2 linked regions of the Homo sapiens genome follow. The protein of the gene in region 1 interacts with the protein of each later gene in a pairwise test. Each region holds a gene or a part of one and is shown in the gene's direction. Other genes may lie near its edges.

What was found.
Region 2: the proteins of RABGGTA (region 1) and CHM interact in binary tests that used the Homo sapiens proteins (3 or more experiments, as listed by UniProt).

What each region holds. Positions count from the first base shown.
Region 1 is NC_000014.9:24,265,038-24,268,597, reverse strand, and holds the end of RABGGTA (geranylgeranyl transferase type-2 subunit alpha), read left to right. Parts: coding exon 1-84; intron 85-177; coding exon 178-229; intron 230-399; coding exon 400-488; intron 489-639; coding exon 640-728; intron 729-821; coding exon 822-938; intron 939-1,708; coding exon 1,709-1,822; intron 1,823-2,080; coding exon 2,081-2,168; intron 2,169-2,834; coding exon 2,835-2,983; 3' UTR 2,984-3,060; downstream 3,061-3,560. UniProt on the Homo sapiens protein: Catalyzes the transfer of a geranylgeranyl moiety from geranylgeranyl diphosphate to both cysteines of Rab proteins with the C-terminal sequence -XXCC, -XCXC and -CCXX, such as RAB1A, RAB3A, RAB5A and RAB7A.
Region 2 is NC_000023.11:86,041,059-86,044,558, reverse strand, and holds part of CHM (rab proteins geranylgeranyltransferase component A 1), read left to right. Parts: intron 1-3,500. UniProt on the Homo sapiens protein: Substrate-binding subunit of the Rab geranylgeranyltransferase (GGTase) complex.

The sequences.
Region 1 (3,560 bases):
CCCTCAACGACCAGTTGCCCCAACATACATTTCGCGTCATTTGGACAGCAGGCGATGTCCAGAAAGAATGCGTGCTTTTAAAAGGTGATGGAACCTGCAGCCTCCACCCCTTGCAGCAGCCCCCATCACTCTTTTCCTCTCAAGGGTGCACCCTCCAACCACCTACTCTTTCCCCAGGCCGCCAGGAGGGCTGGTGCCGGGACTCCACGACAGACGAGCAGCTATTCAGGTGGTGATAGGGAAGCACAAAACAAGGAGAGGGGCTCTGGACTCTGGGCATCAGGCAGCCAGGGCAGGAGGCTGGGGCCTCAAGGAGCTGTTTCAGTCTAGATACTGGGAATGTTGACCAGTGCTTCAGGGCTGTGGGCCTCAACTCCTCCCCACCCTGCCCACCCTCAGGTGTGAGCTGTCAGTGGAGAAGTCCACAGTGCTGCAGTCTGAGCTGGAATCCTGTAAGGAGCTGCAGGAGCTGGAGCCTGAGAATAAATGTGAGGCCCCATTCCGTGAGAGTCTGCTCCCAGAGCCCGCTGAGGAAACCCCTTTCCAGTGTGGCCCTGAGAGGACAGCAGGAAGGCCTCAGGAGGATGGGAGCAGAGGAGGTTCCAAGAGAAACCCTCCTTTTCCCTGCCCTCTCCTCAGGGTGCCTGCTTACCATCATCCTGCTGATGCGGGCACTGGACCCCCTGCTGTATGAGAAGGAGACCCTGCAGTACTTCCAGACCCTCAAGGCAAGTTCTGTCTGCAGAACAGACCAGGGGGAGGCCCAGCAGGCAGGAGGCAGGCAGCTGACATGCATACCCTGCCCACCTCATCCACTCCAGGCCGTGGACCCCATGCGGGCAACGTATCTGGATGACCTGCGCAGCAAGTTCTTGCTGGAGAATAGCGTGCTCAAGATGGAGTATGCCGAGGTGCGTGTGCTGCACCTGGCTCACAAGGTATGGGCTGCCATGCATGCCTTCCCCTGGCCCTCATCCCGCTGGCCTCCCCACGTCCCTGACTTTGCCCCCAGTCTCAGGTGCCTTTGTGGACTTCCAATCAAGATAGAGTTCATCCCTGCCTCCCAGCTTGCTCCTCTTCCAGGCCTTTCTGTCACTCAGCCCATTCTTCTTCTTGCCACTCACTTTCAAATCCCGAGTCACCAGGACCTCCTTGTGCTGTTTCTTCCCCAGGCTGGTCACAGCTTCATCTTCCTTCAGAGTGACCGCTAGCCCACTCCTCCCACACATTCCAGCACATCTCACCCTGGAGCAACCTCCAATACCTGAAGGCCAAATACTTTCCAGAGATTCCTGAGAAGTTGTCCAGGCTCCACTTTCCTAGTCCTTCCCAACACATTAGTTTTATCACATCACCACAGCCCACCTCCATTCCTGCCAAACTCATCTCTGCCTCATCAGGACCAGTCCCCATGGGGGACCAGTCTTTGTTTACCCAGCACCCTCCACTGGCCCCTGTACCTCCGAACTCCAGGCCTCCTCCTCCTCACCCACCCCACTGGTTACCCCACTCGCAGCACTGTCTGTCCCACGTCATGTACTGCTGTGGGCTGTAAGGTCAGCTTCCCACATGCTCCCATCCTCTTCTTGGCTGGGGTCCCCAAGGGCCTGTGGGGCACAGAGGGCATGTGCCTAATAAATGCTGGCCGAGGACCCTCTCCCAGGTCTCCTGGGAAGCCCATCACCTCCTTCCTCCCTTCACCCCCCAGGATCTGACAGTGCTCTGCCATCTGGAACAGCTGCTCTTGGTCACCCATCTTGACTTGTCACACAATCGCCTCCGAACCCTGCCACCTGCACTGGCTGCCCTGCGCTGCCTTGAGGTAAAGTACCCATGTCTCCGTCCCTGTCACGGGTGGTTCTTTTCCTCTTCCTCTCCCTCAGAAGTCTGCCCATCCTACAAGGAGATGTGCAGGACCCTCCACCCCGAACAGGTAACTGCGTGCCTTCCACCTCCATCACGCAGCCTGACCCTGTGAGCCCCTCTGTGCTCTGTGGACCCGTCACCCTGAGCTCCTCAGTTGCTGAACCATCCCTGGCTGACAGCGCCTGTCCTGCCTCCCTGCCCTCCCTGCCCCCAGGTGCTGCAGGCCAGTGATAATGCCATAGAGTCCCTGGACGGCGTCACCAACCTACCCCGGCTGCAGGAGCTGCTACTGTGCAACAACCGTATCCTTCCTTCTGGGTGCCTTTCAGACAGTGGGTAAAGTGAGGTGCCACCCTGGGAAGGGACAGACAGCAGGCAGGGTATGTGCCACCCTCTTGCAGGGCAGGAGAGAGGGGGCTCTGTAGTGTGAGTTGAAGGGGGAGAGCCTGGGGCTGTCGGGCTATCACTGACCTGCACTGGTGGAGTTGTGCGGAGTGGACTTCCTCAAGTCAGAGTTCACAAATGGGCAGCCCGCAGCTGTTCTTCAGGTCTATGTAGTTTTTTGAAAATCAGGAACTTTCATACTTTAAAAAACATCTAGAGTTCTAATTCCTCTCTTAAAAATTGGAAGTTAGAGCAACCTTACACTGGTATTTTCACTCAGCAGCCCTTGGTCATTGCTGAATAGTAAATGTCTCTTTGGACCAGGCTAGATTTCCACCTTATCATACCCTGCACCACTCCCCTGATACTACACCAGCTTGCGTGGGGTGTTGCGGCTCATTCTTTCCTGGCTGACCCTGTGGGTAGGCATTTGCAGTCCCTGCCTAGAGCCTGACTCCCTCCAGGGAGCATATGAGATGCCCATCAAACAGACTTCCAGGCAGCAGTCCCCAGCTCTTGAGGGTACACAGGAGCAAATAAATTGGGAGGAACCTGCCAAGCTTTCCTTGACTCTCCTGAACAAGGCCTCCAGCAGCCTGCAGTGCTCCAGCCTCTTGCCTCCTGCCCCAGGCTGGTCCTCCTCAACCTGCAGGGTAACCCGCTGTGCCAAGCGGTGGGCATCTTGGAGCAACTGGCTGAACTGCTGCCTTCAGTTAGCAGCGTCCTCACCTAAGAGGCCCTGCCCCCTACCCTTGCCCTTTAACTTATTGGGACTGAATAAAGAATGGAGAGGCCCTCTCAGGCTACCAAGCTGTTGTCGCTGCTATCACTACACCACCACCTTCATCACTTTTATTTTTTGAAAAGAAAGGGAAGAGACATGGGGTGTTGCCAGCTCCTTCTTTCTGCGCCATCCTATTGTTTCCTCTCAGAGAGAGCCAAGGCTTCAGTGTTTGGGGCAGAATTCAGGGTGAAGGCTGAGCTTTTGTTTACCTTCTGGTTTGGGGTGGGGGCTGGGACTGGGTCTAGATTCCAAGCAGGAATAGGGCTTGGGCTCAGGTTCTGGCTCTGGTAAGCTACAGAGCAGCTGTGAGTTTCTCCAGCTGGAAGCATCATACAATTTTTTCCCATGACCCCTGCACCTTCCACATGTTCCCCCTGCCCTGGCCCCCATTCACCATAGCTGGGGAGGCTCAAGGGCTCCACGTTCCCAGGAATGGGCCAGGGTGTCCTTGCTCCGTCCTGCCTGAACAACACTATCGGTCCCCATGAGTAGCATTCTACGGTTGAAGTACCTTTGAGAATACTTG
Region 2 (3,500 bases), on another chromosome or scaffold:
AGCCAAGAACTCAACAGAAGAGCAGTCAAGATGGAAGTTATAAGATCTATATGATAATATTGACATGCTTCATACATAGGGGAATCCCTGAGATCATCACTTAGAACATATTCATCCTCATTTTAAAAATAATTCTAGCAAGCTCAGCATATTAGAACCACCCCCTTAGAAGATACAAGGAATGTTATCAACTTCTGCAAAGACTATGTTTGGTGGGGTTGCTATTAGACATACAAATGACAGTTTGTATAGGAAAGGGAAGAGAAAAACACCTAAAATGCAAACTTACATCAAACATCACAAAGGCCTGATAACATTTAGTGTAGTGACAAATACTCATTTTTCAGGTCATTCAACCCACATTTACTGAGAACCTAGTCCCTTCCCTTGTGAAGTTTACTGTATTGCCTATTCTCAGGAACGTTCTGGCCTTCCTAACAGTCATATCCCCAAAGCTGTTCTTAAGACAATGTAGGCTTTTCATTGCATCCTTCTTTCTTTTTGAAGACCATGTAGACATTCAGCCTGCATTTTTTCTTTTTAAAAGCACACTGCTCACATCTTTTGGAGTTCTTCCCCTAAGATGGGCTGCAGAGTAGGTTAGCTTAATTTTTCTACTGCATAGGATAAACACATATATTCTTTTGATTTAAGAGTTTTATTGTTAGCCAAGCATGGTGGCACGGGCCTGTAATCCCCATTACTCTATAGGCTAAGGCACAGGCATCCCTTGATCCTGGAAGGCGGAGGTTGCAGTGAGCTTAGATGGCACCACTGCACTCTAGTCAGAGAAACAGAGTGAGACTGTCTCAAAAAAAAAAAAAAGTTTCATTGGCCAGGTGCAGTGGCTCAGGCCTGTAATCCCAGCACTTGGGGAAGCCGAGGCAGGTGGATTGCTTGAGCTCAGGAGTTTGAAACCTCAGCCTCCCAAGTAGCTGAAATGGGTGACACAGCAAAACTGTATTTCTACAAAAAAAATACAAAAATTAATTGGGTATGGTGACACGTGCCTGTAGTCCCAGCTACTTGGAAGGCTGAGGTGGGAGGATTGCCTGAAACTGGGAGTTTGAGGCTGCAGTGAGCTATAGTTGTGTCACTGCACTTCAGCCTGGGCAACAGAGCAAGACCCTATCTCAAAAAAAAAAAAAAGTTTTATTGCTAAAGATTATGGGGAAAGAGAAGGGATAGCAAAGATAAACATGGAAATTATAAGGAGTACTGCCCCTAAATCCTGATTATCTTGCTAGATAGTGTTTAGCACCATACAGTAGTAGATGTGGCAGCATGGTGTATGATAATCACATGACCATCCTATTGTGTGATTTTGGGAAAATTACAGAATTTCTTGTGACATCATTTAGTTCATCTGTAAAGTGAGAAATTTCAATAGATGATCTCCAAGGTAGGGATCTACCAGCCCTAAAATTACCATTGTATATATCTATTTATGACACCATGTCCTTGAGAAAAGGCTAAATTCTGTTCTGTGTAGTCTTTTTAAGAAGGAAAGTCAGTGTTTCATATACTTCAGAAATTTTCCTATAAAAATGGCTGATAGGGTTTAGATATTTGTCCTGCCCAAATCTCATGTTGAAATGTTATCCTCGTTGTCGGAGGTGGGGCCTGATGGGATGTGTTTGGGTCATGGGAGTGGATCCCTCATGGCTTGGTACTCTTCTTGTAATAGTGAATTCGTTCTTGCAGGATCTGGTGGTTTATTTTTTAATTTTTTTTTTGAGACAGGGTCTTGCTCTGTCACCCTAGTTGGAGTGCAGTGGCACAATCATGGCCCACTGCAGCCTTAACCTCCTGGGCCCAAGCAATCCTCCCACCTCAGACTCCTGAGTAGCTGAGATTACAGACATGCATCACCATGCCTGGCTAATTTTTTTTTTTTTATTTTTGTAGAGATGGGGTCTGCCTATGTTGCCCAGGCTGGTTTTGCACTTCTGAACTCAAGCAATCTACCTGCCTTGGTGGCCCAAATTGCTGGGATTACAGATGGGAGCCACTGTGCCTGGTCGACTGGTTGTTTAAAAGTGTGTGGCATCTCCCCACACTTGCTTGCCTTGCCTCTCACCAAGGGAGATGCCTGCTTCCCCTTTGCCTTCTGCTATGACTAAAAGCTCCCTCAGGCCTCCCTAGAAGCCGAGCAGATGCCTGTACCATGCTTGTACAGCCTGCAGAACCCTGAGCCAATTAAACCTCTTTTCTTTATAAATTACCCAGTTTCAGGCATTCCTTTATGGCAACACAGGAACAGCCTAATACAGTGACTGATTAGAAAAGGCATTTTCTTAAAAATGATAGGCTGCTTTTTTCAGAAAAGGTCACTTAAGTAGCCTTTCCTTGATGTTGGGATGTTCCAGTCCCATTCCTTGATGTTGGTGAATTTAAACATTAAGGTAGTTAACCTTGACTGGCAGCTCATTGACTTATGATGATGTTGGAATAGCATCACTTCTGTAAGCCTTGGGGGATAGTAATATTGCAGGAGGAGTTGTGAAAACTGATATTTACCAAATATCTGTTTGTGCCAGCCTTAACACAAGTGATTTCCTATATTTCTAACTTAATCTTCTCCCAGGATGCCTGAATGTGGTTCTCACATCACAGGATGTCCATAGTCCTCCCTGTGTACTTCCAAAATCTTCACATCTATTGTCTACAGTGGATTTTTAAAAATTGTAAGATGCCACCTATTAGTGGATCATGGAGTGAATTCCAGCATTATAAAAATGAGGTAGAATATATCAGAATGCATGTAGTAAGGATGAATGTTGTTTTTTATATATATATGTATATATATATATATATATATATATATATATACACACACACCATATATATAACATATATATATATATACATAAACACACATACACACATATGTTTTTGGGGAGGGCAGGTTCAAAAAATTTAAAGCATAGAGTATATTGATCAGCTGAATGACATAGTGAGTAGGAGTGAAATGGTATTTCAAAAGTCCTTTCTTTGTTGTCTTCTCTTTTGTTCACCAGCTTGCATTATTTATCATTTGTTTTCCTCATAGTTTTTGGAACAGATTTAGTATCGGTCTTATTTGAGGTATAGTATGAAACACTCCGTTGTCAGCGTAAGAGATGCTATAGGAGTGAAAGATAGCCTGCAGATTTTGCTGTTCTGAAAAATGCTTTGCACTTCTTCAGGCATTTATTGATGGAAAAGTATGTTTTTGTTTGCTTCCAATACCTAGAAAAGTAAAGAGTTATCTAACTCTGGAGAAGACTCTCTGGGAGATGCTTACCCTTCTCTGTAAATCATGAATTTGAGCCAATACCTCAGAGAGAGCCACATCTGTTGCCATAATTTCCTCTGCAGCATCATTTTCATCTCCCATGCCTCATGTCATTTTTCTCATTTTCTCCAGTGTTTTCATGATGTTTTGGATAACAGGCTACAGTAATTAAATTCAAATATGGCAGCCCACCATTACATTCTCATGTTTAACATAAAATCCC